2 separate regions of the Homo sapiens genome follow, and region 2 is linked to region 1. The links come from fine-mapping of genetic effects on gene expression. Tissue or cell type: nucleus accumbens. Region 1 holds a variant in brackets; the other region holds the start of a gene. All regions are shown on one strand. Distances are from middle to middle. Region 1 overlaps C7orf78 (chromosome 7 open reading frame 78). Region 2 holds the start of SCIN (scinderin).

What was found. PIP is the estimated chance that this variant, and not a neighbour inherited with it, causes the effect. A credible set is the group of variants that fine-mapping cannot tell apart.
Region 2: it holds the start of SCIN, and the variant in region 1 is the best candidate, but not a certain one, in a credible set for the expression of SCIN in nucleus accumbens (GTEx, PIP 0.74).

The regions. Positions count from the first base shown.
Region 1 is chr7:12,515,860-12,521,240 of GRCh38, reverse strand. The region is part of intron 1 of C7orf78 (chromosome 7 open reading frame 78); the gene reads right to left. Among named protein-coding and RNA genes, the nearest start is that of C7orf78, 14 kb to the right of the region's middle. RefSeq lists an enhancer at 1,941-2,040. The variant T/C (reference allele first, on the strand shown) is at 2,891.
Region 2 is chr7:12,567,736-12,573,116 of GRCh38, reverse strand. SCIN (scinderin) reads right to left here and starts at 2,397. Exons shown (of 16, transcript NM_001112706.3): 1 at 2,132-2,397. The coding sequence starts at 2,330. It overlaps LOC107986768, which reads left to right. Exons shown (of 3, transcript XR_007060635.1): 3 at 1,736-5,381.

The DNA of each region.
Region 1 (5,381 bases):
ATGTCTTCAAGTGTTAACAATAACTTTCAGGGTAAACAAGTTAATTTCCCCAATTAAAAAACGTAGATTGACTGAATGGATTAAAAAAGGACTCAATTATTTGCTACCTACAAGAACCTCACTTCACCTGTAAAGACACACATAGACTGAAAATGAAGGGATAGAAAATGATGTTCCATACAAATGGAAACCAAAGCTAAACAGAAGTAACTATACTTATTTCAGATAAAATAGACTTCAAATAAAAAAATGTAAAAAGAGACAAAGAAGGCCATTACATAATGATTAAGAAGTATATTAAGGAAGAAGATATAACAATAGCAAATATATGTGCATCCAGCACCCAAATATATAAAACAAATATTATTTGATCTAAAGGGAGAGATAGACAGCAATACAATAATAGTAAGGGACCTCAAAACTCCACTTTTAGAAATAAACAGAACTTCTAGACAAAATCCATGAAGAAGTATCAAAGTTAAACTGCATTCTAGAGCAAATAAACCTAACAGACGTTTACAGAACATTCCACCCAGTAACTAACAATGTATGTTCTTCTCATTCGCAAATGTAACCGTCTCCAGGATAGATCATAAGTTAGGCCACAAAGCAAGTCTAAACAAATTAAAAAGGATTAAAAACATAGAAAGTATCTTTTCTGACTACAGTGGAATAAAACTAGAAATCAATAACAGAAAGAACTTTGGAAACTATACAAATACATGGAAATTAAGCAACACGCTCTTGAATAACAAATGAGGCAAAGAAAAAATTTAAAAATTTATTGAAACAAATGAAAATGGAAATACAACACACCAAAACCTATGGGATACAGCAAAAGCAGTTCTAAGAAGGAAGTTTACAGCAATAAATATCCGCATCAATAAATTAGAAATATCTTGAATGTAGAGACAGCTTCAAGATGCTGACTAGAGGCATCGGGCACTTGCCTTCTCCAGACAGAAGAAACAAAACTTAACCAAATAGATAATCACATTTCAGATAAAACATCTAGTAGAGAACACCGGAGTCCAAAAGAGAAATATCTGAGACACAGAAGGGGAAGAAAGCAAGGGGTTAGCTTGGCCAAGATTGGCTGTGAGCCCATAGGGGCTCCTTTTTGCAGAGAAAGGGTAAGTGGGATACCCTCATTGGCTTACATCCTCACTGTGGACTGCTGCAATCCCAACCATTGGAGAGCTCCTGTACCCACATTAACCCTAAGACTAGTGTGGGTGTTCATCTGGAGACCCAATGAGGGCATTGTACCAGATAGAAAATGCACTGGGTCACACACACTCCTGAGATCTAAGTGGCTACAGCATGGCACCACTGTGAGAGCCTAGCCATCACCATTCTGCATCCTGCTCTGGGAACAACAGCTGTCCCATCTCCACATCCTGGGAACCTCTGTTTATATCCCCTGGTGTCCACCCAGAGGGCTACGGAGGCACAGCATTGGCTGAGCCCAAAGATGCTTGGGGTCCCCAGTACTTTAGTCCAACAGAGTACTACTCCCTGGGGAAAAAAAATGGTGCAGCACACCAAGGAGGTGGCCACTGGGCACAAAGGAAGCCAAATTACATGCTTTCCAGAGCTGATGAGCTTTCTTTCTGGGGCTTTGATAAGTGACTCCACCTCTAACTGTGTCACATATTGTACTTGGGTTCACAGTGAGAGAGTGGGATCTTTCCCTCTACATGTGCACAGTGCCATAGCAGTTGTTGCCACTGGGAGCCAAGGCAAGCGGGTCTGAGAGCTGTCTGACTGGAGCTGGAAGGAGTGACCACAACCCTGCTGGCAGAGTGGACTCTGTGCTAGGATTTATGTATAGAGAATGGGATCTCTTTCCTTCTCTGCATTTCACTGCAGCTGCAGCTGCTCTTGCTGCCACTAGGGGCTGGATGGGCAAGAGAGGGCTGCTTGTCTGGGGCTGTGAGTTGCAACCATGTCCCCATTAGCAGTGTGGCCTGTGTTAAAGCTCACTCACAGAGGGTGGGGTTCTTTCTCACTTCTGCATGGTGCTGTTGCAGCTGCTGCCTCCAAGAGCAAATAAGTCTGAGAGCTACATGTTTGGGTTGTGGGTGGTGACCCTGTCCCCCTGCAGTATGGTCATGTGCTCTGGCTACCAATAGAGGGTGGGATCCTCATCTCCATCTTCTGCACAGTGCTGAAGCCACTACTGCAGCAGGGAGCTGAAACAAGTGCAACCTAGAACTGGAGACTCCCTGTGCCAATCCAGCCCATACCAGCAGCACGGGTTCTGTACTCTAGTGCACATCCTCAAATCAGGCTCCTCACACTCACCACTGCAGTCACTGCTGCTGCCAGAGATTAAATATTCACTTCCCAGAGCCTGAGAGCTGCTTGTAGGAGACTGCTGATAGCAACCTACCCATACAAACAGCAGGGCCACTATGCTTTCTAGTACAAGCCCTAAGGTCAGGTATCCACACCAACCATCACAGACTGTCTCAACCTGCCTACTACAGCCTATCCCCCTGCACACCATCAGGCGCCTGAGGACAGACACTCCCAAATTGGCACCACACCTCCAAGCCTGAGCACACCACCCAAGGACTTGGTGATTATTCTATCTATTCCACCACCTATACCATCTATTTTATCCCCCTAGGAACCTGAAGATGGGCCCACTCACCTTGCTGCCAACAGCACAAACACACACTCACATGTGCCATCTAGGAGCTCGGGGAGGGGTCTGCTCAGCCAATCACAGCCACTGCCAACACCAGTGAGCACTGCTCAGGAATAAGACAGTCATCTTACCACTGCTACTGCCATGGCCCACACCATGCTGTCTGCACATGGGGCTGAAAACCAGTACACCCACCTGGCTCACCACTGCCATTACCAGCATCTGGGCAAGACA[T/C]GTGGAGGCCTGATAATTGGCTCAACTGGACAACTAACACCAGTGCCAGCATACACCACCCAGGGGGCTAAAGGACAGGTATACTCAGCCTACTGCTGCAACCACTTGGGCCTGAAGACTGACCTACCTGCAATCCCTTTTCCCAGAAAATCTCCACCATAGCCTCCACTAATGACCCTAAGCCACTGAGGAAATCACAGATACCACTAACATTGTTTGTAGGCAAAGAAATCATATAGAGACTACACTACTGCACACATTCAGAATCAAAGCCAAATGGCCCCAACAAACATCATAGATAAATTTTTAGGAAAAAGCCCTAAACTCAAAAGAAAATTCAAAAAATTCAAAGAAGACATAGATGCATAGATATGTAGGGACACAGAAAACATGAAAGAGCAAGAAATATGACACCCCCAAAGGAATAAAATAATTCTCCAGCAACAGATCCCAATCAAAAAAATTTCACAAAATCCCAGAAAAAGAATTCAAAATACTGATTTTAAAGGAGCTCAGCAAGATACAGGAGAATGCTGAAAAACAATACAAAGAAATCAGAAAAAATAATTCAGGATATGAATGAGAAATTTACCAAAGAGAAAAATATGATAAAAAAGAGCAAATGGAAATTCTAGAACTGAAGAGTTCATTTAATGAACTACAAAATATATTTGAAAGCTCCAACAATAGATTAAGCAGAAGAAAGAATCTCAGAACTTGAAGACAGGTCTTTTGAAATAACCCAGTCAGACAAAAATGAAAAAACAAAGAATAAAAAAGAATGAATGAAGCATTCATAACATATGGGACACTATAAAGCAAATGATATATGAATTTTTGTTATCTCAGAAGGTGAGGAGAGGACAAAAGTGTTCAAAAACCTATTTAGCAGAATAATAGCTGAAAAGTTCCAAAGTCTAGCAAGAGATTTAGACATCATATTAATCTGTTTTCATGCTGCCGATAAAAACATACTTGAGACTGAGAAGAAAAAGAGGTTTAATTGGACTTACAGTTCCTCATGGCTGGGGAGGCCTCAGAATCATGGTGGGAGGTGAAAGGCACTTCTTACATGGCGGTGGCAAGAGAAAATGAGAAAGATGCAAAAGCGGACACCCCTGATAAAACCACCAGATCTTGTGAGACTTATTCACTACCACAAAAACAGTATCGGGGAAACTGCACCCATGATTCAAATTATCTTCCACCGAGTCCCTCCCATAACACATGGGAATTATGGGAGTACAATTCAAGATGAGATTTGGGTGGGGACACAGTTAAACTATGTCATTCCACCCCTGGCCCCTCCAAATCTCATGTCCTCACATTTCAAAACCAATCATGCCTTCCCAACAATCTCCCAAAGTCTTAACTCATTTCAGCATTAAACCCAAAAGTCTACAGTCCAAAGTCTCATCTGAGACAAGGCAACTCCCTTCCGCCTATGAGCCTGTAAAATCAAAAGCAAGCTAGTTACTTCCTTGATACAATGGGGGTACAGGTATTTGGTAAATACAGCAGTTCCAAATGGGAGAAAGTGGCCAAAACAAAGGGGTTACAGGGCCCATGCAAGTCTGAAATCCATCTGGGCAGTCAAATTTTAAAGCCCCAAAATGATCTCCTTTGACTCCAGGTCTCACATCCAGGTCATGCTGATGCAAGAGGTGGGTTCCCATGGTGTTAGGCAGCTCCTCCCCTGTGGCTTTGCAGGGTACAGCTTTCCTCCCAGCTGCTTTCACGGGCTGGCATTGAGTGTCTGTGGCTTTTCCAGGCACATGGTGCAAGCTGTCAGTGGATCTACCATTCTGGGATCTGGAGGATGGTATCACTCTTCTCATAGCTCTAGTAGGCCATGCCCCAGTGGGGACTCTGTGTGGGGCCTCCCACAGCACATTACCCTTCTGCACTGTCCTAGCAGAGGTTCTCCATGAGTGCCCCGCTCCTGCAGCAAACTTCTGCTTGGGCATTCATGCATTTTCACACATCTTCTGAAATCTAGGTGGAGGTTCCCAAACCCCAGTTCTTGACTTCTGTGCACTCGCAGGTTCAACACCATATGAAAGCTGCCAAGGCTTGGGGCTTGCACCCTCTGAAGCCATTGCCCAAGCTCTACATTGGCCCCTTACAGCCAGGGCTGGAGCATCTGGGACATAGGGCACCAAGTCCCTAGGCTGCACGTAGTACAGAGACCCTGGGCCTGGCCCACAAAACCATTTTCTCTTAGGTCTCTGGGCCTGTGATGGGAGGGTCTGCTGTGAAGACATCTGACATACCCTAGAGACATTTTCCCCATTCTCTTGGGAATTAACATTTGGCTCCTTGTTACTTATGTAAATTTCTGCAGCCAGGTTGAATTTCTCCTCAGAAAATGGGTTTTTCTTTTCTATCACATTGTCAGGCTGCAAATTTTCTGAACTTTTATGCTCTGCTTCCCTTATAAAACTGAATGCCTTTAACAGCATCGAAGTCACATCTTAAATGCTTGGCTGCT
Region 2 (5,381 bases), 52 kb before region 1:
TGGGCAATCCCATCTGAAAGTCCTGTTGACTATTTTACTTGAAGCTTTTTTTCTCTCCATAATTCTCTCTTGACACAAGAACACTTCCAAGTACTCTCATTTTTTTTTTCTCTAAAGGCTTCTGTTTCCCAATAACCACAGAAACTTTGTGCTTTCACAGTAATTATCACATTCTACCTGTGTTATATCACTTTTTGTCTTTTTGCACCTTTGAGGTGATGAACTTTTAGAGAAGTTTCATTAATTATTCATATCCACAAGTGCCTTGTACAGTACTGGCCATATTGAATAATTACTGAATGAATTTGCTTGTTATTAACATGTTATTGACTTCAGTTTTAGCATGTCTTTAAGATTATAAATGTTTCTGCCCAAACCATTTTCTATTATATTTTTGAAATTTATGGGCATCAAGTGGATAATTAAGTAGATAATTAAGTGAATAAGGTGAATCTGTAAACCCTACAAAATATAGTAGTTAAGAGGACAACTTGGATAAAAATGTATAGAATTAAAGAATTGTGTTCAAATCTCCCTTGCGGTCATCTGACAAAGTCAAACTTAACTGCTGTCTACAGTAAGATATGGCATTATTTCACATTTTAATTTACTCAAATGGCAAATGTGGCATTTCAAACACTTTCATTCATGCTAGATTTAAGTTCTGCATGGAAAGTCCTCTGTAAGGACATCATTATTCTATCTGGCATCATTCATTCTTGAACATGGGTTATAAAAGTTTCAGTCTTTTCTGGCAGAAAATACAAATAGATGACTGTGTATTACAACATTATAATAGGAATAACAGCAATGCATCAAGAAGCCAAAATGTGTTCAGAACTCAGGCTGAGCCTTCTCTGCCTCCTCAAGCTAACACAAATTTTTGACTCCAAATGTTATAATTAAAAGTCTTATCTTCATCTACGTATTTTTCATTTCTCATTTCTCAAATGCCTGTTCCAGGTGTTTGCCAATGTTTAGACAGTCACTACTCAATGTTTTCTATTATTTTGTTTCTTAAAATCTTCAAATGTTGGAAATTACAGTGTTGGCTTTCAGGGACTCAAAAATGTGTAAGTGTGTGTGGTTTTGTGTGTTTTCCTCCTAAGCTCAGGGATAAAACTAAACAAACACGAGTACTGGGCAGGCTAGCTAGTTTTAAAAGAAGGCAAAAAGGCTCAGAGAATCGGCATGTTGTTAGACAGGGTGTGCCCACTGGCACAAGACCTCCTGGGGAGAGGCTGGACATTCAGGATGTTTATGAGTAAAAGTAGAAGGTGGAAAAAGAACACACAAGGCCCAGTGTCCTGACAGCCTGGCACGAACGCAGCTCAAAATAATTACTACTGCTGAAGGAGCCGTTTCTGTTCCATCTTGTGTCCTTGCTAAAATAAATAATAAATAATAACAATAAAGCAGTCTACATAAATATATGAAATACCCATATAGAGCTATTTATTTGTATATAAAATATCTGTATTTTTTTCTTACTTCTATCTGAGGACGCCAGCTTCCGAATGAAGCGGAGTTTTTGTCTACCAGACCCACAAGCAGCATGGTGCGGGTAGAATCCTGTTTTAAAGAAGCCCAGAACAATAATTCCCGCAATCATAGAGAAAATAAGCCAGTGCCCGAAAGCAACAAATAAAAATAATGTGTGAAGAAAAAGAAAAGGACTTCTTCCTAGCGGCGGCAGATGCCCCCAGACTTTATGACTTCCTCTCCATCCCGACAGGGAAAGCAGGACTGAGTTTGTCGGAAGGTGAGCGGGGCTTGGCCAGAGACGGTGTGCGCTGAGGCAGCGGCCCTGGACAAGAGTGGCGTTTGGATACTTGACGGTGAAAGGGGAAGAAGCCAGTCACCAGCTCCAAAGTCCAGGAACTACACCTGGCAAAGGTCAAAGCCTGCGAGGTAAGTCAATTGCGGACAACGCCTGAGCCCCGCGTTTGCAGCCGGCGAGTTGACTTCGGTAGGGAGAAAGTGGCCGGCCCCAAAGGGCAGCCCCGTGGGGGCGCGAGTGGCTAGCTCAGTTTGCGGTCCCCTTTACTCCCACGCCTGCAAATCTCAGACCCCTACGCCCTCCCCTCGCCGGCCTTGGTGCGTCGGGGTCCCGCCGCCCGCCGTCCCTTACCGAGCCAGAAGTGCAGGTGGTAGGTGAAGCCTCGGCTCGTCTTGGCCGTGTGCAGCACCAGGTAGGCATCCCCGACGTAGAAGTCGCCGTGAGCGCTCTGGGGCACGGGCACCAGCTCCAGCTTCTCAATCCTCCAGACCTGCAGCCCCGCCTGCTTGCCCGCCCGGGCGAACTCTTCGTGGTATAGCTCCCGCGCCATGGCTCCTGCACGCGATGCTCCGGGGGACGCGTGATATCGCTGATCTTGGACTAAACCGAGAGCAGCAGGAGGAACCTTATTCGCCGCCACTTTATAGTGTTTGCCATCCGGGGAGGCGGCGCCCTGAAACGGGAGGGGCTAAGTGCCCAGGCGCGAGTTGACAGAGGAGACGATCGCTTCCCACGGGGAGCGCAGCGCTGGCTTCCAAGCTCCCACGCCTTGCCCCAGGCCAGGAGCGGAATCGGCGTCCCAGAAGTCTTGAGATTCAGAGGGAGTTTATAGTAACTCGTGCCAATGCCTCCTCCAAGGAAAGACATTTTCTCTAGCAATAGACGAAGAACATTAACGGTTAAAACTGCTTGGCACTCCTTTGTGCATACCCATCACTACCGTCCTGCATATTTCCCCTTCTCTCGCTAATCCTCTTATTTCTGGATCTCAGTTGTGCCTGGCAGGAGGGGTGAGGTGAGGAAAGAGCGCGCCAGCCCTGCAGAGTTGAGTCAGCGTTTACTCGGGTGGAGCAATACCTGTTCTTTCTGGCCCTCTAGAATAATTCTTAGAACAAGGCTTCCTCTGCTAATAGCAACACCTGCCGTTAGGCAGCAGAGGAGTGTGCCACATTAGCATGCTGGAATAATTTTAATACATCCTTCTTTAAAAAATGGGCTTTTTGAGTAACAAGCATCCTAATGATCAATTCTGTCATTTCATTGGGCAATCTCTGCATTCCTGACGACCAAAGTTTCTGTCTCGATCTTCCAGTTTGAAAATACCATGAAAAACAGCATGTCAGATTTCTTGGACAGGAAGAAAACCTGGAAGAATGGCAGTATTACCCCAGGTGACAGAGCTCTGTAAATCTCAGAGTTCAGGAGCTGTGGTTGAGCTCTCTTAACACCTGCTTCCTTTGGCCAAGAAAGATGAAAACAACAACAAAAACCCAGCAGCCGCCGTCCTGAGATGTTCTCTGCAGGGCTGTTTGTGGCTGTAATTTTATGCTTGGCCGGACTTCTGGGTTACCTGTTACCTAGCTTCAAGGTGATAATTTTCTTTGTTTTACCTACAGGTTTTGCTTTTGCAGCATGGCTAAAACACTATGGAATACAGATGGAAATTTTACTCTTGATTTGGCATTCATTTAACAAGCTGGTATAGCAAAGGATTCTGTTACTGAAAAAGGCAAATCACTCAGGATGTATAGAGTAAGAAAGCTGAATTTCATGCATGTAAAATTGTTTTCATTCAATTTCTCAAATTACATGAATCCCTGGAAGGTCAATAATAATGCAAAATTAGATTTTTTTCCTTAATTAAATTATGTTTTTAATAGGTTATTACATGACCATGGTAAAAAAATTAAAAGTACAAAATGTGTGCAATAAAAAATTATCTCCATTTCACCCTGCCACCCAGTTGCTTTCCCCAAAGGCAATTACGTTACCAGTTTCTTATGTATTTTTCCAGGCACTCAAATTTTGTCAACAAGAATATAGGTAATGTAGTTATTTTAAATTTTTAACAGAAAATGTAACATATAACCTTTTCGAATCCCCCCCCGTGTGTGTGTGTGTGTGTGTGTGTGTGTGTGTGTGTGTGTGTGTGTCTGTGTATCAACACACAGTACTCATAGAGCTACCGGTTTTTACTGACCATATGGTATTCCACTTTATAAACATACTAATTTATTTTGTCTATCTCAGTTCATAGTGTAGGGGCCAAGGGAAAACTTCCCCTCTACCCTCTGAAGTTTCACTGAAAAATCAAGTCACAAAAGGCAGATTAACAGGACAAATGGCATACAAATTTATCAGCGGGCATGGGGGAGAATCACAGAGTGATTGGCCAATATCCCAATGAGGTACAGAGGGTTGTACCTCCTTATTAGAGGAAAGGCAGATGGGTGATGTATGGGTGATTTGGGGGGTTAGAAAATGATTTTTAGGGGAATTCAATGTGTTTGAAGAACATACAGTGGCCTGAGACAAAGTATGTTAAGCCTGCAGAGCTCTCCGTGTGTGTTGACAGACTTCAGTCTTTCTTTCTGCAATATGAGTTCAGTTTGTGGAAAGTCAGGGAAGAGACCAGAGGTAACTGTTTTCTTCTTTGGCAAGTCGAGACTTTAGGCAGATAAGGGAACTTCAGAGAATACCTTCATTCTGTGCTTTGGGAAAGAGAGGATTGGTGAAGGAAGGTCAAAGAAAACTTAAGCCTTCTTCATTTCAGCATGTCAAAGTGTCACATTTTGTGGTATTGGTTTCTGAGCCCCAACACTAGGCATTTAAATTTTGTGTATATTTTGCCAATACAGTGTTACAAATAGCATATTGAACATACTTTATTATGCATTCGCAGTATTATAATTGAGATAAAACCCTGGAAATATAATTGGTTGGGATTAAATAGCTTTTATGTAGTGACGATAATTATGAAACCAATTACTACCACTTACTGATCTTTGACAATAACAGGCTATAGTACACATTACCTTGATTCAATTCCTGCTTTCATCCTTAGTTCTGAGACTTTCAGGAAGTTACTTAACTACACACAGCCAGCCTCATGTTCCTCATCTCTAAAATGGGAAAATAATAATATTTGCCTTATAAGATTATTTGGTTTAAATGAGTCGACACATATAAGGTATTTGTGTCTGTTACACAGAAAACACTCAATAATTAGGAACAATTTTTATGTGGTGGTGAGCTTCCTTTTGCTCCTTTAGATATCTTCTCTATCCTGCACCCTTCCACCTTCCCTTGAGGTTGATCTACAAGAGCTAAATCAAGTGGGCTCTGATGTCCTCTGGCTTGAGGCTTGGTTGGAGACCAGAGGGAGAAAAGAGAGTGAGGCTGGAGTATTTATTTCCTTGGCTCCTTCAGCAAAAAGTCACTGTTCTTTTAAAGGCGAATAACTGTGTCTGACTTTTTGTCTCCTGTTGGGTTATAGCAACTCTCCCCTCACATGTTTTATTCCTTTTGTTTTCTCTGCCTCTGTTCTTTTGTATATAGCTTCCTAAAAATCTCCTGGAATTTTCCTATTTTGCATGCATGC